Regions from separate parts of the Homo sapiens genome. Here regions 2 and 3 are each linked to region 1. Evidence: fine-mapped QTL for protein levels in blood plasma. A gene starts in region 1. Each other region holds a variant in brackets. All regions are shown on one strand. Distances are from middle to middle.

Region 1 (8,181 bases):
GATGATTGTGGTAGGCTTGGTCATGCTGGCCACCTGCCTGGTAGCAAAACCCACACCTGAGGGTAGGGGGAAGGTTATGAGTATATGAGCTGGGGTAGAGAAGCAGTGTACAAGAAACTCAATGAATAACTCTCAGGCCTGGGTATGGGGAAGTGGAGGACTGTATCTTTCAAAGCCTTTGCATGGGAATTTTAAAATTCAGTCTTGCGCTTAGTTCTGTTTGGTGAACACAGATAACTGATCCCATTAGATGAGAGATACTTAAGGAACAGCAGTGCCATAGCAAGTCAGTGGCAGAGCTGGGATTAGAATAAGCTACTATTGGGCCAAGTGTGGTGGCTCACGCCTGTAATCACACTTTGGGAGGCCAAGGCAGGCGGATCACATGAGGCCAGGAGTTTAAGACCAGCCTGGCCAATATGGTGAAACCCGTCTCTACTAAAAATACAAAAAATTAGCCAGATGTGGTGGTATGTGCCTGTAATCCCAGCTACTCAGGAGGCTGAGGCTGAGAATTGCTTGAACCTAGGAGGTGGAGGTTGCAGTGAGTCGAGATTGTGCCACTGCACTCCAGCCTAGCCAACAGAGTGAGATTCCACCTCAAAAAAAAAAAAAAAGCTACTATTAAGTACTATGAGCTTTTTGTGTAGTAAGAACTGTACATGTTATCTCATTTAGTTCTTCCTGTTCTTCTGAAGACTGTTTCCACGTTACAGATACAAAAACAGAGGTAAAGCCCAGGGTCACAAATCTGAGATTGAAGCCCAGAATTGTCTGAGTCCAGAGCTTGCTTAAGTGCTCAGCTATACTACCTCCCAAGGCTGGAGCATAAGGCTGCCTTCCAGGGCACCTGAAAAGCTCTCAAAGCCTTAGGAATAAGGCTGAGGAAAGAAGAGAAACATAGACTTTCCCTTCCAAAGCCTTAGGCATAGGAGTTTTCCAACTTTGGAAGTTTTTACCCTGAAACTAAGAAGTGTTAGTGCTCTTGTCCCTTATACATGGCAACCCATCATTTTCAAAGCCTGTTATCTATGATCTAGGAGTTAGGTACAAAGGAAGTATTTGTCCTATTGTGCAGATTCAGGAGGAGCCTAAAGCGGTAGCAACAATGAGTTAGACTCAAACCCGTCTCCTGACTCCCAGTCTAAGGCTTTACAGAGACTCTCTTCCTGACCCAAGCATGGCTTCCTTGGGTACTGGGCAAAGTCCTAAGTGTCCTGCAACCAAGTAAAGAACAAAGAACTAATCATGACTGCCCCCTCTCCCCCCAGCAGCTTAACATTGAACTGTCTTCCAAGGCAAAGGTGAGGCAGGAGGCAGCCCAGTGTAGTGAGGTGGTGTGTGTAAAGTCTCCAAATGTACCTGGCTACATAGTGCTTGCTGGAAGCTAGGTACTCTGCACATGCCCTACATGGGTTGTTTTACTTAATGCTTGTAACAGCCTCGAAGCGTAGATTATCCCCAGTTTACAATGAAGAGTGCGAAGTGTCTTGTCGAAATTCAAAGAGAATAAACTACTGACATAGATTTGAACCTCGGCTCCAAAACTGTTGACTATTTTCACTGGGCGATTCTGTCCAGCACATACTCAATCCAGGCCAGCAGTTGTGCCTGTGGTCACTGGTACTAGACGGGACCTCTTTGCCCCTTGAGAGCCCTAGGTCTACAGCAGGAGGGGCAGGGGCTGCCTCTGCTGTTATGCTGTCAGCCCACCCTTGCTTGGCCAGTGAGGAACTTGGCATTGCCCCTTGGTATCAGGATGAGTCAGGCCAATCACACTCCCTTGCACAGAGCAGGACCTTGTCACGGCACTGGGAGCTCTGTTCACTTAGGATCTACCCAGAGGTATGGAGTGTTTGAAAAGGAAACCACTGCGGGATGAGTGAGGGTCTGAACCAAGAGAAACTAAGAATATTGAGCTGACAGAATTTAGGAGACTCAGGGAGATCTGGGTTCTACTTAGAAATGAAGCCAGCACTACTTACTGAGAGCTGAGGAGGGTATTTTCCCAGGCTTTCCATTCCTACGATGAGAATGCTGGCTGCCTTAACATAAGCTGCTGAAAGATAACAGGACTTCAGGGAGACCAGCCCGCTGACCCAACTCGGGGCAGAATAAGGGAACAAGAATGGTAAAGTTGTTGCAGCTCAATTCAAGACTCAGCTCTGGCCCAGCTTTGGAAGGAGGAACTAAATCTGGGCATTCCAACTTCCCAATAGCTGCTGGGCTGTGTTCGTGGGGGCTGGGGGCTGCTCCTCTAAGAATGACTGCCTGCCTAGAATTACTGGGCATAGCGCCCAAGATAGGGTAGAGGCCGTTGAGAGCTTTGACCTCTCCATCTAAGCCCAAAGCAGTAGAAGAAGGGCTGAGGTCAATCATTAGCTAAGCAGTTTCTACTTTTCTTCCCACTCGCAGGGCCTGTAGGGTAGTGGGAAGAGCTCTGGGTTACAGATCTAGAAACCTTAGATTTTCATATTGGCTCTGCTGTGGAATTGTTATAATACATTTCTACTCTCCTGGTTTCAGTTTCCCTGTTGAACTAGATGGTATGGGAATCTCCAAGTTCCTCACCTGTGAGATTCTTTGAATCCTGATTCTTCTCCATCCCAACACCACAGCAGTTCTCCACATCCTCCTAAACCAGTGATCCTCCCTCCCAGGTCTTGACCTTGCCTTGGGACCCTCTACTGCACATCAGAAGTCCAATGGCTTTCTCTGCCTACCCCTCGCACAGATAGGTGAGCCTTGGGTTGCAGGAAAGGCCCAGCTGATCATGGGCCTCTTGCCCCACCCTACCACGAGGCTCACAGACAGTGATGAAGGCCTGGATACATAGACTGCAGGACAAGGTCAGACTGGCTGGTGAGAAAGGGCATTCTCCAGCAAGAATTCTCTTCCCTAACCAAGCAGAGATGGGGATTGCTGCTTACTGCAGGTTCCTGTCTTACGTCCTTCTCATATCTGATTCACTGATCCACAGTTTTTTCCCCACTAATCTTTTTCCTCCTAGGTATTTCCTACTTGTTTACATCATTGTACACTCCCTGGCTGCCCCATTCCCTTTCTGGGTTCAGTCTCCTCCAATTTCTAAACTACCCATGCCCCTGTTCTTTTTCTCCCCTGGCTACACTCCCTTTCCTGTGATCAGTGTTCTTTATCCAAACCCTCCTCCTACCTCCAAATCACATATCCCTCTTCCTGGAAAGAGCCTCCCACACAGCTGCCTCCTTCCACCACCTCCCTACCGTGGTCTCTAACCAGATTTGGACCACCAAAGCCCCCTCTGAACAGGCCCCACCTGCTCTAGGCCAGGCTGCCATCTCCGCGCTCCCCTATTCCCCAGTCTTAACCAGGAGGGATGCGGCAGGAGTGCTGCGTGGGGCTAGGCACGCCACCAGCCAGTCCCCAAGCCAACATCCTGAGCCCCGCGGCTTGCTCACCGAGTGACTTCATGTAGTCATCGAAATTCTTGCTGTCCACTAGCTTCCAGGTGCCCAGGAAAGCGTCCACCATAGTGATGCTGGGCTAGGCTGAGAGAAGCTACAAGAGAGCAGGCGTGCAAGGGCTCCGACGGCGGCTCCCTGCCCGGGCTGCCGCTTTAAATAGCCCTCGCATCACATGAGGAGACGTGGCCCACGCCCCCGGCTCCCGAAATAGGAAGCCCCAGGCTAGGGCTCACCCAGGAGGGGCTGGTGCGCCCATCCCCCAACCCACCGAGGTGGGTGGGGACCAGCCAGTGGCGCCCTGCTAGCCTGCGTCAGCGCCAGTGCCTGGCCCCCGAGTCCCTACCCCAGGCTGGTAGGACCTTCTCCCTTTCCTGGCCTCTAGGCACTCTGGAATCTGAGAAGGAAGCAGCCAACACCAGCCCGAGAGCTAGGGCGCATGCCATGGTGGATATCTTCCCGTCCCCCAGTCCCTCTTTGAGCTTAGCGTCAGAGCAGAGATGAGACTAGAAAAGCAAAACGCCCTTGGGCTGGTGCCCACGCCGGGGAAAGCTCTGGTTGACTTCTGGCACGGGCATCTGTCCTCGTTTTACAAGTGAGGAGTCCGAGGCTCACAGGGGAACTGACAAGGTCTCAAGAAATAGGAGGGGGTGAATGGAGCTCAGATTGCAAGCTTAGTCTAGCGGGCTTCAGAGCTCGCGCTCTCCCTTCACTCTCACTGCCTGGTGGCGGAGACAGTCACCAGCGGCTCGGTCTGCGGCTGAGCTGACCTTGTCCTCTGCCTGTTTTGAGCAAAAGCCTGACCCTTCGCGCCCCGCCCGCCTCACACGTGCTTGCCCCTCCCTGCGGAATGTCTCCTGCTGGCCCTCCTCCGTCCCCACCCCACCCCACCATCTAGCTCCCCACCCGCCCCTGCAAGTGCTCTGGGCTTTTCCGGTTTCTTCGCACAGCTCCGAGCTTTAGCTCAGGTCGTTCCCAGCTCCCCTCCTGCAGAAATTCTGCCAATTCGGTCAGCTCTTCAAGGCCCATGGCTGCCTTCCCCACCTGCCGCCCTTTCTTTGGCCTGTGCACACTAGCAAGCCGCCTGCACTTTTGGGTAATTTGCTGCCTCCTTTCGAGAGCCTGTTGTGCGGTGGTTTGTCACTGTATAGTTTACTAAGCACTTTCAGTAAAAATAAGACCTGCCTTGTCTTGCTATTTATTGCATGCTGAGGGCTTTGGGTGTATTGTTTCATTGAACTTTTTATTTTATTATTATTTTTTAGAGACAAAGTCTCTCGCTGTGTCTCCCAGGCTGGAGTACTGTGACGCCATCATAGCTCACTGCAGCCTCAAACTCCGGGGCTCAGGGGATCCTCCTACCTTAGCCTCCCCAGCAGCTGGGACTATAGGCACACGCCACCACACCTGGCCTCATTGGACTTTTAAAGCAAAATCCATGAAGTAGGTGTTACTGTATTATTTTCTCTTTTTAAAAAGGTGAACAAGTTGAAGCTCTGAGGAGCTCACTCATTAATTCAGCAGTTAATAAAGCACCTACTTTGTGCCAGGCCCTGCTTTGGAGAGAGACAACAGGGAACAAGACACACATTCACCTCTGGGCAGCCAGACATAAAACTAGCGTGGTGCCTCTAAAGGGAGTCCTGTCCTGTCCTGACCTGAGGGCCCAATGTAGACTTCTCAAAGGAAGTGAGGTATAAATGAATTTCTGAGGGATGGCAGGAGGCCCTGCACACCAAGGAGTAGTGCCGAACTGAATTTCAGCCAGCAGCAGCCTGTCCAGGGTGGGCCTGCAGGAGCCAACACAGGAGCCCAGAGGCCTGCCACGTGCGTAGAGTATGGCAGGCCCTCCTTCCTGGGACTCTGTTTCTCCATGTGCAAACCCTGCCTCCCTTCCCTGGACTGTTCTGAGAACAAGGCCAGGGAGGAAGAGCCCTCTCCCCACCCTAAGATCTTGATTCCTTTGGACGGTCCAGTTGCCAGAAGACTCAGAGGCTCATTTCTGCCAAAGCTATAGGGACAGGCTTCAGGGCTGGGCATGGAGCCTTGGTGATCTCACTGTTGGAACAGGTGCCAGGAGAGGAGGAGGGGGAAAAGATGATTTCTGACTCAAGGTCGCAGCCCTCACACATAGGGCCTCCTCTCAAGGACTGTGTGGCCAGGAACTAGAACTGACTCCTTATGTGGCCCTTGTAATGCAATGATGGAGAGCTGGGGCTGGGCTAATGGCTGCTGGCAGATCTGCGTTCTGATCTGAATTTTGTTGGGTACTAGCTGTGTGGCCTTGGGCAATTCACTTAAGCCATTCTGAGTCTCCATTTTTTTTTTTTTTTTTTTGAGAAGGAGTCTCGTTGCCCAGGCTGAAGTGCAGTGGTGTGATCTTGGCTCACTGCAACCTCCACCTCCTGGGTTCAAGCAATTCTCCTGCCTCAGCCTCCCAAGTAGCTGGGATTACAGGCAACTGCCACCACATCTGGATAATTTTTGTATTTTTAGTAGAGACGGGGTTTCGCCATGTTGGCCAGGCTGGTCTTAAACTCCTGACCTCAGGTGATCTGCCCACCTGGACCTCCTAAAGTTCTGGGATTACAGGCATGAGCCACCACGCCAGCTTCAGTTTCATCTTTAAAATGAAGGGATTTTTTTTTGGAGATGGAGTCTTGCACTCTGTCACCCAGGCTGGAGTGCAATGGTGTTATCTCAGCTCACTGCAACCTCTGCCTCCCAGGTTCAAGTGATTCTCCTGCCTCAGCCTCCCAGGTTCAAGTGATTCTCCTGCCTCAGCCTCCCAAGTAGCTGGGACTATAGGCGCGGGCCACCGCGCCAGGCTAATTTTTATATTTTTAGTAGAGACGGGGTTTCACCATATTGGCCAGGCTGGCCTTGAACTCCTGACCTCAAGTGATCCGCCTGCCTTGGCCTCCCAAAGTGCTGGGATTACAGGCATGAGCCACCACGCCTGGCCTATTTATTTATTTGGAGAGAGTCTCACTCTGTCACTCAGGCTGGAGTGCAGTGGCATGATCTCAGCTCATGGCATTCTTGACCTCCCAGACTCAAGGGATCCTCCCACCTCAGCCTCCTGAGTAGTTAGGACTACAGGCGCATGGCACCACGCCTGGCTAATTTTTTGTGCATTTTTTTGGTAGAGACAGGGTTTTGCCGTGTTGCCCAGGCTGGTGTTGGACTCCTGGCCTCAAGCAATCTGCTTGCCTCGGCTTCCAAAGTGCTGAGACTACAGGTGTGAGCCACGACACCTGGCCCGAGATAATACATTTAAATGCTAAGCATGGTTGACTTACGAAAGTTCACTGCTGCTGCTCCTCCTGCTGCTATTGTTATTGTCTCCAGGGATAGTGCAGACACCTAAGACCTAGTCTGAGCTCTGCCACTACCTACTGAGTTAGTTACCTGAGGCAGATTGCTTTGCTTCTTTAATCCTCAGTTTTATTATTTCTGGGACAGGATTAGAAAGGGCTTCAACTGAAAAAGGGGCTATAGAGGTTTTTCAGAATGGGTTGGGGTGGGGTCACTGCCAGAAAATCCATTTGCTCCCTCTCTTGGGCCTGTCCAAATTGAGCAGCACGGGGCTTTGAGGAGCTCTACTCGACAAACCTCAGACCAACTACCCTCACTGCCCTTCCCTCACCTCGCCATGGTGCTCAGACCTGGGTCACCGAGGTTAACCCATAAGCCACACCCCATCTCCTTTCCTCCTGGTTTACACCCTTCTCCCTTCTAAGTATGTACAGTTCTCTCCTCATCCCTCTGATCTACCTGCATCCTCTTCCTCTGTTATGCTGACTACATTTGGGGAAGAATGTGAGCCCTGTCCCTTTTTGTACTCCTCTGTCTTGCCCTTGGCAGATCCAGATGTGGATATAACATCTGGCAGGCAGCAAGACCAGCGCCTGCCAAGAACAGCATCTCCCCAGCCCTCATCCTATGGTGAGGTCACTGTTCTATGTTTCCACGGCAACCACAGGCTGGGAAGATGGAGAAGAGGAGAGATGAGTAACCAGAAGCCAGCCAATGAGATGAGCTGCAGCACCGGATGATCCATGGGGCCATGGGGAGCGGGGACAAGGGAGGCCTGCTCAGCATGTTCAGCTGTTTCCTGGACCCTCCCTGCCATCTGGATGCCTCCACTAGAGAATGTGCTACTAGCACCAGGAAAGAGCTAGAGGCTGAAGAAGCTGAGTAGAAGCTCTGCTGACCCAAGAACATGGCCCTCCTTTTTTGCCTCTTCAGGGTCTAAGTCTATGGTTGCTGACTACCCCCGCCCCATCCCACCCCTAATATCTGCAACTGGGAACTTTTCCCATTTGCTGGGAATGATGGTGGGGCTCTTTCTGCCTCTGCCTGCCATAGAACCAGCAAGTCTTAGACATCCCTTCTTTTTATGCCCTTGGTCCATGGGGTCTTTGTTACCAGAAAGGGGTCCCAATCCAGACCCCAAGAGAGAGTTCTTGCATCTCACACAAGAAAGAATTCGGGGCAAATCCGCAGAATAAAGTAAAAGCAAGTTTATTAGAGAAGTAAAGAAATGTCTGTTTAGTAAATTATTAACCTGTTCCCTTAACTCTTAACTGTAAACATTTTGTGACTAAGAATGTTTCACCTTGTGGGAATGCATCCCAGCCAGGTCTCAGCTTCATTTTATCCAGCCTCTATTCAAGATGGAGTCACTCTGGTTAGAATGCCTCTGACATCTTCAGATGCAGTGTCTTTGGAAAGA
Region 2 (8,181 bases), 120 kb after region 1:
TTTTTCCTTTTATCATTGTTCTCTACATATCTAGTGCATGGAGACTATTTGTGACACTAGGTGCTCTTGTTCTCTGCCTTCTCTGGGGTTCCTGGAAGCCCTTCCTCACCTGTTCAGAATAGTCCAGCTCCTTCCCACCCTTGCACATCCCATTTAGTAGAGTGAAAGCCTGCATTGCCATCACTCAAGTAGGCCCTCAAGGGACCCACTCTGCCTCCAAGTGACTTTTCAATGTTTCCTTTGTGATATGGTTTGGCTGTGTCCCCACCCAAATGTCATCTTGAATTGTAGATCCCATAATTCCCATGTGTCATGGAAGGGATCCAGTGGGAGGTAATTGAATCATGGGGGTAGGTCTTTCCTATGCTGTTCTCATGATAGTAAATAAGTCTCGTGAGATCTGATGGTTTCATAAAGGGGAGTTCCCCTGCACATGCTCTCTTGCCTGCTGCCATGTAAGACGTGACTTTGCTCCTCATTCATCTCCCGCAATGGTTGAACTAACTTACATTCCTACCAACAGTGTACAAGCATTCCTATTTCTCCACAGCCTCACTAGCATCTGTTGTTTCTTGACTTTTTAATAATTGCCATTCTGACTGGTGTGAGATGGTATCTCATTGTGGTTTTGATTTGCATTTCTCTAATGATCAATGATGTTGAGCTTTTTTTCATGTTTCTTGGCCAATAGATGTCTTCTTTTGAGAAGTGTCTGTTCATATCCTTTGCCCACTTTTTGATGGGGTTGTTTGTCTAACTATTTTTTTACACTCATCAACCATACCCACCTCCCCCACCAGCCCTCCATTACCCTTGTCAGCCTCTGGTAACCATCCTTTTACTCTCTATGTCCGTGAGTTCAATTGTTTTTGATTTTTGTTTAGATCTCACAAATAAGTGAGAACATGAGGAGTTTGTCTTTCTGTGCCTAGCTTATTTCACTTAACATAATGATCTTCAGTTCCATCTATGTTGTTGCAAATGACAGGATCTCATTCTTTTTTACAGCTGAATAGTACTCCATTGGGCATATGTACCACATTTTCTTTTTCCTTTCATCTGTTGATGGACACTTAGGTTGTTTCCAAATCTTGGCTGTTGTGAACAATGCTGCAATAAACATGGGAGTGCAGATATCTCTACCATATACTGATTTCCTTTCTTTTGGGTATATATCCTGCAGTGGGATTGCTGGATCATGTGATAGCTCGATTTTTAGTTTTTTGAGGAACCTCCAAACTGTTCTTCATAGTAGTTGCACTAATTTACATTCCCACCAACAGTGTACCAGGGTTCTCTTTTCTCTACATCCTTGTCAGCATTTGTTATTGCCTGTCTTTTGGATATAAGCCATTTTAACTGGGGTGAGAGGATATCTCATTGTAGTTTTGATTTGCATTTCTCTGATGACTAAAGACGTTGAGCACCTTTTCATATGTCTGTTTGTCATTTGTATGTCATCTTCTGAGAAATGTCTATTCAGATCTTTTGCTCTTTTTGACTGGATTATTTGATTTTTTTTCCTATAGAGTTGTTTGAGATCCTTATATATTCTGGTTATGAATCTCTTGTCAGATGGATAGTTTGCAAATATTTTTTCCCATTCTGTGGGTTGTCTCTTCACTTTGCTGATTGTATCCTTTGCTGTGCAGAAGCTTTTTAACTTGTTATCCCATTTGCCCATTTTTGCTTTGGTTGCCTGTGCTTGTGGGGTATTGCTCAAGAAATTTTGGCCATAATAATATCCTGAAGATTTTCCCCATCCTATGATATTTTAATCCTCCTTAAAACTCAGTGCTCCAGGAAGCTTCCTGACTGACCAATGCCTGGGTCCAGTTATTTTATTTATTTATTTTGAGATGGAGTCTCGCTCTGTTTCCCAGGCTGGAGTTTGGTGGTGTGATCTTGGCTCACTGCAATCTCCACCTCCCAGGTTCAAGCGATTCTCCTGCCTCATCCTCCAGAGTAGCTGGGATTACAGGTGTGTGCTACCACACCTGGCTACTGGGTCTAGTTCTGATCACCTCCCACTGTTCCCTGTAAGTAAAGTGAACTTTTCCAAAGGAGGCATGTATTGAGCTGAATGGGTTAACTGATGCTGCAGTAACAAACAACCCTCACATTTCAGTACTTAAACTAATAAGGTTGTGATTGCCTCAAACTATATCCCTATGAAGGGAGAGAGCTGGGGGCCCTGCTCTCTGCTGTCCCCACCCTAGGAACTGGGCTGATAGAGTAACCACTGGCTGCTGACTGCTTCTGCAAAGGGACAGAGCGCATGGTGAATTAACACTGGCTCTTAAAGCTTCCTACTGGCGGTAACATCACTTTACTCACATTTCATTAGCCAAAGCAAGCCACGTGGCCATATCCCATTTCAAGGGGGAGGAATATAATAGACCTTATTATTGCCAGAATGTTTGCTGTCCCCACCTGTGGAAGGATTATAATTCTTTCCTCATTAACATCTGGCCTAGCCACATGACTTGCTTTGGCTACTGGTCTTCAAGTAGAAATGTGCCATGAGGGACTGACTGCTCCCTTAGCCTGAGTCCTGGAGATGATGGAACAGAGCAAAACTGATCCACATGGGAACACTGCATGAGTGAGAAAGAAGTCTTTGTAGTTATAAGCTCCTATGATTTGGGGATAGTTTGTTACTGCAGTATAACTTAACTTACACTGATGGCCTCAGTGGGGAAGTATAATTTTACCCCGTGATCAAGAGGAGACTTGGAAACGGCTAATGGGCAGCACTCATGACGAGCACATAGTGCCATTTGAATTGAAAACTGGAGAGAATAGCAGCTGGCTAGGCTGGAGGGAAAGGGTTTCTGAAAGAAGGACGCATGATTGCAGAGGTTTGGAACAGAGAGGGATGCAGTAAGTGGTGGGTATATGATAGGAAGGGTAGACTGGCAGGGACAGATGCCATCTGTTCTCTTGAGATTGACTGTTAGGTTTGGCCTGCATCAGACCCAGATCTAAGGTCACCTTTGAGATGACTTTTGTCAGTTCTGGTAGTAATTTGATTTGGATGAGGTCTTACCCCTCTCTGACCTTACAGATGCCTCTCTTAAACAGGCATAATAATAGTCACTTCTCAATGTTGTTGTGTGCTGAGACCAGTTCGGTCGGGGAGACCCTAACCCAGTGGCTCTAGAGGAATTAAAGACACACACACAGAAATATAGAGGTGTGAAGTGGGAAATCAGGGGTCTCACAGCCTTCAGAGCTGAGAGCCTCGAACAGAGATTTACCCACGTATTCATTAACAGCAAGCCAGTCATTAGCATTGTTTCTATAGATATTAGATTAACTAAAAGTATCCCTTATGGGAAACAAAGGAATGGGCCGAAATAAAGGGATGGGTTGGGCTAGTTATCTGCAGCAGGAGCATGTCCTTAAGGCACAGATCGCTCATGCAATTGTTTGTGGTTTAAGAATGCCTTTAAGCAGTTTTCCACCCTGGGTGGGCCAGGTGTTCCTTGCCCTCATTCTGGTAAACCCACAACCTTCCAGCGTGGGCATCATGGCCATCATGAACAAGTCACAGTGCTGCAGAGATTTTGTTCATGGCCAGTTTTGGGGCCAGTTTATGGCCAGATTTTGGGGGGCCTGTTCCCAACAGTTGTGAATACTATTCAATGAGTTAAGCACTGGTGGAAGAAGCCTGGGGTCTGGAATCAGACAGACCCATGTTTGAATCCTGGCTCTGCCACTTACTGACAACCATGGAAATTCTTCATTTTAAACATCTGTAAGCCTCTGATTTTTCATCTGTAAAATGGAGATGATGATTAGTGCTTCATGGGATTGTTATGAGGATGATAAGAAATAGTGAAATTATGCAATGCATAATTTATAAAGATTCCATATTCATTAATCCAACATGGGAGTCATAGAAA[T/C]GTTGGACCTGGTTTATTTTTCTTCTGATCCTTGCTACAAAACAGATGATAGTTTTTATACATTTAAGGCAAAATAACATTGGCATCTTATTTTTGTGAAATATCTCCCTTAAGGTGAAGCTTCAGATATTGCACATAAAGAAGACCTTTAATAGCATAGTTAAAGAAAAACTGAAGTATTTTTTACTTTATTCACATGGCCATCCCAGGGCCTAAAGGGTCTAACCCCCATTGTTGGCTAGTCACCCTTGAATTCCAACTCCATGCTTAGTTCATAGGATCAAACTTGTTGCTTTGTTTGTAGTGATGTTCCAGAAGAAATGAGGATATAATCAGGCAGAATGAGCTGAAAACTATTTACCCACCAGAGCTCTGCACAAGCCGGTCACAGCCCTCTGAGAAAGATAGAGCTGTCAGAGCCATTTGCTAAGAACTTTCTGCTAACATGTGTATCAGGCAGATGAGGCCAGGAACAGTCCTCTAACCCCAGGGATTTCAATTAACACGGTTTAAACTAAGATCTTTACTTAGATTATCTCATTTAATCCTCAAAACAATGCTGGTATCAAACACTAACATATTAATTCCATTTTTCAGATGAGGAAATGGAGGATCAGGAAAGGTGACATAATTTTATTAGAAGCTGGGATTCAGAAGAAGAACACAATCTCTGCATTAAATAACTTATTAAGGTTTTATAGTCAAGGGAACTGAAACCTGAGTGGCTTATTCAGGCCACAATATCCTTTTAGTTAATCCCCAGGTGTCCTAACTCCCAGGAAGAGCTGAGTTTTATATTTATGAATATACACAAATTATAAATCAGGTGCCACCAAACCTGATGATCTTTCACAAGTGTGATCTCTTGTGTCACATCCAAGCTTAGAAAGTAATTCTTTTAAAGATACTTTAGTCAATTCTCTCTCTCTTTTTTTTTTTTTTTTTGAGATGGAGTCTTGCTCTGTCACCCAGGCTGGAGTGCAGTGGCATGATCTCTGCTCACTGCAACCTCTGTTCCCTGGGTTCAAGCGATTCTCCTGCCTTAGCTCCTCAAGTAGCTGGGACTACAGGTGTGCGCCACCACGCCTGGCTAATTTTTTTGTATTTTTAGTAGAGACAGGATTTTGCCATGTTGGCCAGGTTGGTCTCAAACTCCTGGCCTCAAGTGATCTGCCCTCCTCGGCCTCCCAAGGTGCTGGGATTACAGGCATGTGCCACTGCACCTGGCTGATTTTTTAAATCCCAGCACTTTGGGAGGCCTGGAATCCTAGCACTTTGGGAGACCAAGGCAGGTGGATTGTCTGAGCTCAGGAGTTCGAGATCAGCCTGGGCAACATGGTGAAACCCTGTCTCTACTAAAATACAAAAAATTAGATGGATGTGGTGGCGGGTCCCTGTAATCCCAGGTACTCAGGAGGCTGAGACAGGAGAATCGCTTGAACTCAAGAGGCAGAGATTGCAGTGAGCCGAGATCATGCCATTGCACTCCAGCCTGGGAGACTGAGTGAGACTCTGTCTCAAAAAATATATATATATATATAATATATATATTATATATATATAATATATATATTATATATATTATATATAATATATATATTATATATATTATATATATTATATATAATATATATATTATATATATATTATATATATTATATATAATATATATTATATATATTATATAATATATATAATATATATATTTTATATATATTATATATAATATATATATTTTATATATATTATATATAATACATGTATATATAATATATTTTATATATATTATATATAATACATGTATATATAATATATTTTATATATATTATATATAATACATGTATATATTATATATTTTATATATATATTTAACTTTTTTAATAAGAGAATAACTGGTGATCCTGGACCCCCCTGGATGGATGCAGAGATTGTGCAATCTGTTTTTTGTTTTGTTGTGTTTTGGTTTTTTTAATTTAATTTTTTTATTATTATACTTTAAGTTCTAGGGTACATGTGCATAACGTGCAGGTTTGTTACATATGCATACATGTGCCATGTTGGTGTGCTGCACCCATTAACTCGTCATTTACATTAGGTATATCTCCTAATGCTATCCCTCCCCACTCCGCCCACCACACAACAGGCTCCGGTGTGTGATGTTCCCCACCCTGTGTCCAAGTGCTCTCATTGTTCAATTCCCACCTATGAGTGAGAACATGCGGTGCTTGGTTTTTCGTCTTTGCAATAGTTTGCTGAGAATGATGGTTTCCAGCTTCATCCATGTCCCTACAAAGGACATGAACTCATCCTTTTTTATGGCTGCATAGTATTCCATGGTGTATATGTGCCACATTTTCTTAATCCAGTCTATCATTGATGGACATTTAGGTTGGTTCCAAGTCTTTGCTGTTGTGAATAGTGCCACAATAAACATACGTGTGCATGTGTCTTTATAGCAGCATGATTTATAATACTTTGGGTATATACCCAGTAATGGGATGGCTGGGTCAAACCATATTTCTAGTTCTAGATCCTTGAGGAATTGCCACACTGTCTTCTACAATGGTTGAACTAGTTTACAGTCCCCCCAACAGTGTAAAAGTGTTCCTATTTCTCCACATCCTCTCCAGCACCTGTTGTTTCCTGACTTTTTAATGATCACCATTCTAACTGGTGTGAGATGGTATCTCATTGTGGTTTTGATTTGCATTTCTCTGATGGCCAGTGATGATGAGCATTTTTTCATGTGTCTGTTGCCTGCATAAATGTCTTCTTTTGAGAAGTATCTGTTCATATCCTTTGCCCACTTGTTGATGGGGTTGTTTGTTTTTTTCTTGTAAATTTGTTCGAGTTCTTTGTAGATTCTGGATATTAGCCCTTTTTCAGACGAGTAGATTGCAAAAATTTTCTCCCATTCTGTAGGTTGCCTGTTCATTCTGATGGTAGTTTCTTTTGCTGTGTAGAAGCTCTTTAGTTTAATTAGATCCCATTTGTCAATTTTGGCTTTTGTTGCCATTGCTTTTGGTGTTTTAGACATGAAGTCCTTGCCCATGCCTATGTCCTGAATGGTATTGCCTAGGTTTTCTTCTAGGGTTTTTATGGTTTTAGGTCTAACATTTAAGTCTTTAATCCATCTTGAATTAATTTTAGTATAAGGTGTAAGGAAGGGATCCAGTTTCAGCTTTCTACATATGGCTAGCCAGTTTTCCCAGCACCATTTATTAAATAGGAAATCCTTTCCCCATTTCTTGTTTTTGTCAGGTTTGTCAAAGATCAGATGGTTGTAGATGTGTGGTATTATTTCTGAGGACTCTGTTCTGTTCCATTGGTCTATATCTCTGTTTTGGTACCAGTACCATGCTATTTTGGTTACTGTAGCCTTGTAGTATAGTTTGAAGTCAGGTAGCGTGATGCCTCCAGCTTTGTTCTTTTGGCTTAGGATTGTCTTGGCAATGCAGGCTCTTTTTTGGTTCCATGTGAACTTTAAAGTAGTTTTTTCCAATTCTGTGAAGAAAGTCATTGGTAGCTTGATGGGGATGGCATTGAATCTATAAATTACCTTGGGCAGTATGGCCATTTTCACGATATTGATTTTTCCTATCCATGAACATGGAATGTTCTTCCATTTGTTTGTATCCTCTTTTATTTCATTGAGCAGTTGTTTGTAGTTCTCCTTGAAGAGGTCCTTCACATCCCTTGTAAGTTGGATTCCAAGGTATTTTATTCTCTTTGAAGCAATTGTAAATGGGAGTTCACTCATGATTTGGCTCTCTGTTTGTCTGTTATTGGTGTATAAGAATGCTTGTGATTTTTGCACATTGATTTTGTATCCTGAGACTTTGCTGAAGTTGCTTATCAGCTTAAGGAGATTTTGGGCTGAGACGATGGAGTTTTCTAAATATACAATCATGTCATGTGCAAACAGGGACAATTTGACTCCCTCTTTTCCTAATGAATACCCTTTATTTCTTCCTCCTGCCCGATTGCCCTGGCCAGAACTTCCAACACTATGTTGAATAAGAGTGGTGAGAGAGGGCGTCCCTGTCTTGTGCCAGTTTTCAAAGGGAGTGCTTCCAGTTTTTGCCCATTCAGTATGATATTGGCTGTGGGTTTGTCATAAATAGCTCTTATTATTTTGAGATATGTCCCATCAATACCTAATTTATTGAGAGTTTTTAGCATGAAAGGCTGTTGAATTTTGTCAAAGGCCTTTTCTGCATCTATTGAGATAATCATGTGGTTTTTGTCTTTGGTTCTGTTTATATGCTGGATT
Region 3 (8,181 bases), 32 kb after region 1:
CTCAGGAGGCTGAGGCAGGAGAATCACCTGAACCTGGGAGGCAGAGGTTGCAGTGAGCCCAGGCTGGAGTGCAATGGCGCGATCTCGGCTCACTGCAGGTACTGCCTCCCAGGCTGCGCAACAAGAATGAAACTTTGTTTCAAAAAAAAAGTTTTTCCAGGACATGAGACTTTCAGTACGCAAACCAGAAAGGTCCCAGGCAAAGCAGGATGAGTTGGCCAGCCCACATAGAATGCAGACTTTACATTCATATTAATAATAACATATAAGACTTTAAAGGGATTTTCTGCTTGCAGTTCACTAGTGCTACTGCAGAGGGAACGTTTAAGAAGCACTGACTTCAATGTCCAACCACAGGAAGTAGTTTCATTGGTTCATTCATTCATTTACTCCCCATTAGAGTGCAAGCTCTATGAAAGCAAGGGCTTTTGTCTGTTTGATTCACTGCTGTCCTCCCAGGGCCTAGAATTGTGCCTGGCACCTCAGATGTTCTGTAGATGTTTGTTGAGGGGGACTGTGTGCTGGAAGCCAGCAATACATTGTTCTCTTTTGCCCCATCCTGAGTGGTCCCAGAAGTCTGGCTGAGAAGATGGCTTCTGGGTGGAGGACATCCACTGACAGCGAGTATGGGGCCATCTCAGTGCTGTTAAGAAAATATTTTAATGGCAAGGAAAAATGCTCATGATGGAATGTTATGTGAAAAAGATGGGACACAAAATTATGTAGGTAGTGTGAGTCCAGATTGTTTAACAGTGTTTAAGTGGTCAGCCATGGTGGCTCTCACCTGTAATCCCGGCATGTTAGGAGGCCGAGGTGGGTGGATCACTTGAGGTCAGGAGTTCAACACCAGCCTTTCCAACATGGTGAAACCCCTGTCTCTACTAAAAATACAAAAAGTAGCTTGAGGTGGTGGTGCATGCCTGTAATCCCAGCTACTCAGGCGGCTGAGGCAGGAGAATCGCTTGAACCCCGGGAGGCGGAGGTTGCAGTGAGCCTAGATCACATCACTGTACTCTGGCCTGGGTGACAGAGCAAGATTCTGTCTCAAAAATTTTTTTTAATTAATTTTAAAAAAGCGTTTAAGCATTAGAATAGATGAGAATGGGACATAAAGTATGTCGAAGGTGGGAATCCATTGGTGAATTCTTTTGAATTTTTAAATTCTTCTTTTTTTTTTTTTTTTTTTTTTTTGAGATGCAGTCTCGCTTTGTTGCCCAGGCTGGAGTGCAATGGCATGATCTCAGATCACTGCAACCTCCGCCTCCTGGGTTCAAGTGATTCTCTCACCTCAGCTTCCCAAGGAGCTGGGATTATAGGTGTGCGCCACCATGCCCGGCTAATTTTTCCATTTTTAGTAGAGGCAGGGTTTCACCATGTTGGCCAGGCTGGTCTGGAACTCCTGACCTCAAGTGATTCACCCACCTCAGCCTCCCAAACTGCTGGGATTACAGGCATGAGCCACCGCACCTGGCCTAAAATTCATTTTTCATTTTTTATTCAGCCTCTGCGATGCCCTGCCAGATGTAACTCTGGGAGTTGAGATCCTGTGGTGAACCAGGCAGATAAGATCCCTGCTATCGTGGGACAGGTAGGATTTTATAATTGGAGGGAATGAAACCCAGAGTAAAGGAGCAAAGTTATTTTTTTTAAAGACTGATGAAATTCCGGATGTGCTGAAGAACCAGCTGGAAGCTTGTAGTTAGGGGGCTGTTCCAGCAGTAGGGCAGACTCGGGAGTGGGGGTGAGGGCTTGTTTAGAAAGAAGCAGGAAGCCAGAGAATGCCTCTCAACCCACACCCATTGTGTGTACTCTGGTAAGTCCCTTCTTCGGTCTTGGCCTCAGTTTCTCCATCTGTTAACTGAGAGAAGGCACTAGATGTGTGTGTTTATCTCTCTATTATTCAAATCAGAGAACTTAAAAAATTTAATTGACAAATACAAATTTATACATTTATAGTGTGCAATATAATGTTTTGAAATATGTATATATTGGCCAGGCACGGCGGTGCATGCCTGTAATCCCAGCACTTTGTGAGGCTGAGGTGGGCAGATCACATAAGCCCAGGAGTTCGAGACCAGCATGGGCAACATGATGCGACCCTCTGTCTACAAAAAATACAAAAATTATCTGGATGTGGTGTTGCACACCTGTAGTCCCAGCTACTCGGGAGGCTGAGGTGGGAGGATGGCTTGAGCCCGGGAGGTGGAGGTTGAAGTGAGCTGGGATCACACCACTGCACTCTAGCCTGGGTGACAGAGTAAGACCCTGTCAAAAAATAAAAAATAAATAAATAAATAAATATGTATACATTGTGGAATGGCTAATTGGGCTAAGTATGCATTACCTCACATACTAATTTTTTTGCAATGAGAACAGTTAAAATTTACTTAGCGATTTTGAAGTATACAATACATTGTTAATAACTATAGTGACTGTGTTGTACAATAAATCTCTTGAATTTATTCCTCCTGTCTAACTGAAATTTTGTATCCGTTGACCAACATCTCCTCAATCCCTTCTCCTGGGCCTGGCCCCAGCCCCTGTTAACCACTGTTGTGCTCTCTGCTTCTATGAGTCCGACTTAAAATTTCACATAAGTGAGATCATGCAGTGTTAATCTTTCTGTGCCTGGCTTACTTCAGTTAACGTAATGTTCTCTAGGTTCATCTACGTTGTTGCAAATGACAGGATGTCCTTCTTTTTAAAGGCTGTATAGTATTCTATTGTGTATATATCACAATTTTTTTGTGTTGTTGTTTGTTTGAGATAGAGTTTTGCTCTTGTTCCCCAGGCTAGAGTGCAATGGTGCAGTCTTGGCTCACTGCAACCTCCACTTCCCAGATTAAAGCAGTCCTTCTGTCTCAGCCTCCCAAGTAGCTGGGATTACAGACACCCGCCGCCATGCCTGGCTAATTTTTGTGTTTTTAGTAGAGAGAGCGTTTCACCACGTTGGCCAGGCTGGTCTCGAACTCCTGATCTGAGGTGATCCACCTGCCTTGGCCTCCCAGAGTGCTGGGATTACAGGCGTAAGCCACTGTGCCTGGCCATCACAATTTCTTTATCCATTCATTCCGTGATGGACAGTTAGGTTGTTTCCATATCTTGG[C/T]TATTGTGAATAATACTGCAGTGAACATGGGAGTGTAGATATCTCTCTGACTTACTGATTTCATTTCTTTTGGATATATAACCAAAAGTGGGATTGCTGGATCGTGTGGTAGTTCTATTTTTAGTTTTTCAGGAACCTCCATATTGTTTTCCATAATGGTTGTACCAGTTTACATTCCCACCAGAAGTGTACAAGTGTTCTCTTTTCTCTACATCCTCACCAATACTTGTAAAAAGTATAAACACTTACAAAAAGTAAAAAAATTACTTTTTATGAGGCTGGGTGTGGTCGCTCATGCCTGTAATCCCAGCATTTTGGGAGGCTGAGGCGGGCAGATCACCTCAGGTCAGGAGTTCGAGACCAGCCTGGCCAACATGGTGAAACCCTGTCTCTACTAAAAATACAAAAATTGACCGGGCATGATGGCGGGTGCTTGTAATCCCAGCTACTCAGGAAGCTGAGGCAGGAGAATCGCTTGAACCTGGGAGGTGGAGGTTGCAGTGAGCCGCGATCGTGCCATTGCACTCCAGCCTGGGCGACAAGAGCGAAACTCCATCTCAAAAAAAAAAAAAAAAAAAAAAGATTTAAATGTTTTGTAGAAATGGAGGCCTCGCCATGTTGTCCAGGCTGGTCTTGAACTCCTGGGCTCAAGCAGTCCTCTTGCCTCAGCCTCCCAAAGTGCTGGGGTTACAGGCATGAGCCACTGCACCCAGCCAACACTTGTCTTTCATCTTTTTTTGTTGTTGTTGAGACGGAGTTTCACTCTTGTTGCCCAGGCTGGAGTGCAATGGCGAGATCTCAATTCACTGCAACCTCTGCCTCTCGGGTTCAAGCAATTCTCCTGCCTCAGCCTCCTGAGTAGCTGGGATTACAGGCATGAGCCACTGTACCCGGCCCATCTTGTGTTTTTTAATAACTCTCCATTCTGCTCTCTTCCCAGCCCCTGGCAACTACCATTGTACTTTCTGTCTCTACAAATTAGAGTACTCTGGGTACCTTGTGTAAGTGAAATCATACAGTTTTTGTCCTTTTGTGTCTGGCTTATTTACTTAGCATAACATCCTCAAAGTTCAGCCATGTTGCAGCATGTGTCAGAATTTCTTGTCTTTTTAAGGCTGAATGGTATTGTATTGTATATATATACATGAGATGGCTTTAGAGCTTTCTTCAACTTTGAGGTTGTAGGAGTCTCAATGCCAGGTCTCCGTTGTTCCTCAGTGTGGACTGCTGCCTGTAGGGTGAGTGGAGGCCCTGGCTTCAGAAAGACTTTCCTTCCTGCTTATGTCACCAGAACCTTCCCTGAGCCCAGAGGTCCTGGGAGACCCTGGGGAGGGATCCGAGGAATGAAAGGCTTTGGCTAAACACCTGCTGCCTTCTCTCTGAGGCTTCAGCAGCTGGGTCAGGGTTGGGTGCTGAGCAAGGGTGGGGGAGTTAATGATGGCCTGCCAGGGACTTGGTTGTCCAGATGAAACGGGCCTTGCTCTGAGGCCTGGCCTGATTACAGGGAGCCCTGCGCTTGCCCTCCCCAGGGCCCAGGCCTGGCCTTGCAGCAGCCCCTGCATGCCCAGCTGTTCTGGAGCAGCTGCAGAGGTAGGTGGAGCTGAGGAATTTGGGATAGCAGCTGCCAAAATGCACTGGCTTTGGGATCTGGCACAAGAGATACAACTCATGGTGAAGCCAGCAAGTTCATGCCGGTTCTCATCTGAGGGCTAACTAGTAGTAACAGTCACTGTTGCTTCAAGTTTTAATATGTTCACCGCATACCAAACACTGGGCATGAATTATCTCAGTTAATTGTCACACAGCTGTAGGAGGTTGGTATCGTTGCCCCCATTTTACAGATGAGCAAGCTGAGGCTTGGAGAGCCTTGCCTAGGTCTATGCAGTTGGTAAATGGCCCAGCTGGAATTGGGCCCTGGTTATGTGCTGAAGGCTGGTTTCTTGTCCACTGCTTCTGTGACTCGGTGGGACATTCTTTGGCCAGCTTCTTAGTGGAGAGTGGGTGAGGGGCCAAGATCCACCTGCCTTCCCCACATGGGCCAGGAGAGCTCCTCTTGTAGCTACTTAGGGATTCTGCTTCAAAACATTATTTGAAAGCCACTGTTAATAGTTCAACCTATTTATTTTAATTTATGTATTTTTTTTTTTTTTGAGATAGGGTCTCACTGTATGCCCAGGCTGGAGTGCAGTGGTGCAATCTTGGCTCACTGCAACCTTTACTCCCCAGGCTCAAGTGATCCTCCCACCTCAGCCTCCCGAGTAGCCGAGACCACAGGTGTGCACCACCATGCCTGGCTATTTGTATTTTTAGTAGAGATGGGGGTCTTGCCATGTTGCCCAGGCTGGTGTCGAACTCCTGAGCTCAAGCGATCTGCCTACCTAGGCCTCCCAAAGTGCTGGGATTTCAGGTGAGAGCCACTGCTCCTGGCCTCAACCCATTTATTTTACAGATAGAGAAACAGGCCCAGAAAGGGGCAGAGAGCTGTCTAGGGTCATTCTAACAGGGTTGGTGGCTGAGCCAGGCCCTGCCTCTCAGCCACCTGCTGTTTCTGGTGCCCACCTGTCTTCCTGGATTTTGTATGTGACCTCCCTAGGCAGGAGGGCACTCTGGGGCCTCCCCTGCTGGGTCTGCTGGGCCTGGAGCCCATTCTGTAGGACCCCTGCAGGCCTTGGCTGGTGGACAAATGACTGAAGGAGGGAGATGCAGGGCTGGCAGGCAGTAGGGGCAGAGATTAGAACCCAGGCTGGATCTCAGGCTGGCTCTGGGCTGACTTGTTGTGTGGCCTGAGTGGCTGCATTCTCTCCAGGCCTCCATTTCTCCATCTGTCCAACGATGGGGTATTGACCACTTGGGCCCACAGGCACTGAGCAGGGGAGGATGAATGGTCCCGACAGGAGATATAAATGTATGGGGAGGAAGAAAGGAGCCGCTGGGCCCAGGAGGGCTGTGGACATCCTGCCTTTGCCCCATCCTCCTCCAGGAAACAGCCTCCCACACTCTCGCTGCTGGCCGGATGACGCCGCTTGGCCTGAGCGTGTCCAAGCCTCAGGTGACAGAGTTCCTGGTCCCTTATGCTGCCCTGGGGCTGGTGGCTGCCCTTCCTCGATCCTAAGACATCCTCCTCACCTCAGAGTGGTGCTGGCCTCAGCGGGGCTTGGAGGAGGCTGAGCTCTCTGTGTGGGCACTCACATGGGTGTCAGCCTGACCCACCCACGTGTGCTCACATCCCTGACACGTGCACATACATGCAAACCCATACACGCACCCTGCATAGTAGGGGCTCACAGACGGAAAGAGCCAGGCCACTTCTTTTTTTTTTTTTTGAGACGGAGTTTCGTTCTTGTTGCCCAGGCTGGAGTGCAATGGTCTGATCTCAGCTCACTGCAACCTCCACCTCCCGGGTTCAAGCGATTCTCCTGCCTCGGCCTCCCAAGTAGCTGGGATTACAGGCATGCGCCACCATACCCGGCTAATTTTGTATTTTTTAGTAGAGGTGGGGTTTCTCCATGTTGGTCAGGCTGGTCTCAAACTCCCGACCTCAGGTGATCCGCCCGCCTTGGCCTCCCAAAGTGTTGGGATTACAGGCGCGAGCCACCGCGCCCGGCTGAGCCAGACCACTTCTGTCTTTTAAGGCTCCTGCTAATTTAAAAATGAAGAAAGTCCTAAATAGGATGTTCACAACTGTGGTATGTTTTTATTTAACAAATTAATGTTTTTTAACACACACATGCACCCACACACATCCAATGCAGTGCAACTGAGAGACTCACAAGATCGTCACAAGAATTATAAAAAATGTGATTTCACATTGCTGTGTGGTCCAGTGATGGGATGTAAGTTTCAAATGGCATGAAGAGCATTCTGTTCTTCCCATCTCATCCATAATTCTCTGGGGCTAGACATCCAGCCCACTTTGTGTACTCGTTGTATTATGAAAAGTATCAAGCATCCAGAAGGGTTGAAAGAATGGTACAGTGAGCACCCACATACTCAGCACCTGGGGACTACAATGAACATTTTGCAGTATCTGCTTTATCACATATCCATTCCTCTGTCCAACCCTCTGTCCATCTCTCTGCACAGACAGCCCTCTGCCTATCCATCTACCTAGCCATCCATCCCTCCCTCCCTCCCTTCATTCCATCTCATTTTTGGATGCATTTTTGAGACTTCTGAATGTGAGGCCTGGGCCAAATGGCACTCTCTTCTCTCCTTTGCAGTAACAGGCCCTGCCACACACACAAGCATACCCCCACCTCTACATGTAAACCCCACCTGCGTACACACCATATATGACTTACCCATGTCCCCACATTTATACATGCACATTCCATGCACATATTCACATAACCACACACGCTCATCTGTGCACATATACCTAAACACCCCCCCCTCCCCAACACACACAAACTGCCCACATATACACTCACAGAAGACCCTGGACATCTGTAAGGAAAGCATCTGGAGACCTTTGGGAATCCTCAGACCTGTGACTGTCGTGGAGCCGGTGCCAGGTCCTGGCTGTCTCCTCCATACATTTCTGGCAAGTGCCAGAGGCTCCCTTGAGCTACCTACCTCAGATGTCCTACCTTTTCCACTCTTACCCATCTTCTCTCTCAACCCCTAGTCACTTCCTACAAAGGAAACGGATTCCTTCCAGAGTGTTACTGTTATGGGAAGCAAATCCCACAGACCATCCACTCCATGCAGGCTGGGACTGTGTCTGCCCTATCCACACTGCATTCCCAGCTCCTGGCCCCCTGTGGCTAAGTGTTGATTGGAAAAAAGTCACCAGAGCAGCACAGAGGCACATACACTGGGCAGCCACAGGGGTACCTCCACCCCACACAGTTACGTCCATGCACACAGAACACCCTGTGTGTGTGTGCATGCTCAAGCTTGCATCACTGTGTGCCTGCACACATATGAACACGCATCGTGTCTGCCTGTCTCCATACTTTCCAGATAGAGTCCCTTCCAGGACCTGGGTCCTTTCACAAAATCACCTAATACCACTGTGGGCTCATCTGCTGACATGTGAGATCCAGATGTGGCCCCATGACTGCTCAGGGCTC

Which allele goes with the higher level. Positions count from the first base shown, and alleles are read on the strand shown. Strength reflects both the effect of a copy and how common the allele is.
For the plasma level of the protein whose gene starts at base 3,575 in region 1, C is the high allele of the variant in region 2 and T is the other (strong association).
In carriers of allele C in region 3, the plasma level of the protein whose gene starts at base 3,575 in region 1 tends to be higher than with T alone (moderate association).

What was found. PIP is the chance, under the fine-mapping model, that this variant and not a neighbour inherited with it causes the effect. The UK Biobank Pharma Proteomics Project read protein levels with antibody pairs (Olink). The fine-mapping took linkage between variants from a reference panel, not from the people measured, so its PIPs are less certain.
Region 2: its variant is fine-mapped to the plasma level of the FABP3 protein (UK Biobank, PIP above 0.99).
Region 3: its variant is fine-mapped to the plasma level of the FABP3 protein (UK Biobank, PIP above 0.99).

What each region holds. Positions count from the first base shown.
Region 1 is chr1:31,369,502-31,377,682 of GRCh38, forward strand. It overlaps FABP3 (fatty acid binding protein 3), which reads right to left and starts at 3,575. Exons shown (of 4, transcript NM_004102.5): 1 at 3,441-3,575; 2 at 1-56. The coding sequence starts at 3,513. It overlaps LOC124903892 (a long non-coding RNA gene), which reads left to right and starts at 4,798. Exons shown (of 2, transcript XR_007065573.1): 1 at 4,798-4,886; 2 at 7,311-7,986. RefSeq lists silencers at 3,761-4,055, 7,301-7,595.
Region 2 is chr1:31,489,331-31,497,511 of GRCh38, forward strand. No RefSeq gene overlaps it. Among named protein-coding and RNA genes, the nearest start is that of LINC01226, 25 kb to the right of the region's middle. The variant T/C (reference allele first, on the strand shown) is at 3,909.
Region 3 is chr1:31,401,098-31,409,278 of GRCh38, forward strand. No RefSeq gene overlaps it. Among named protein-coding and RNA genes, the nearest start is that of SERINC2, 8.0 kb to the right of the region's middle. The variant C/T (reference allele first, on the strand shown) is at 3,107.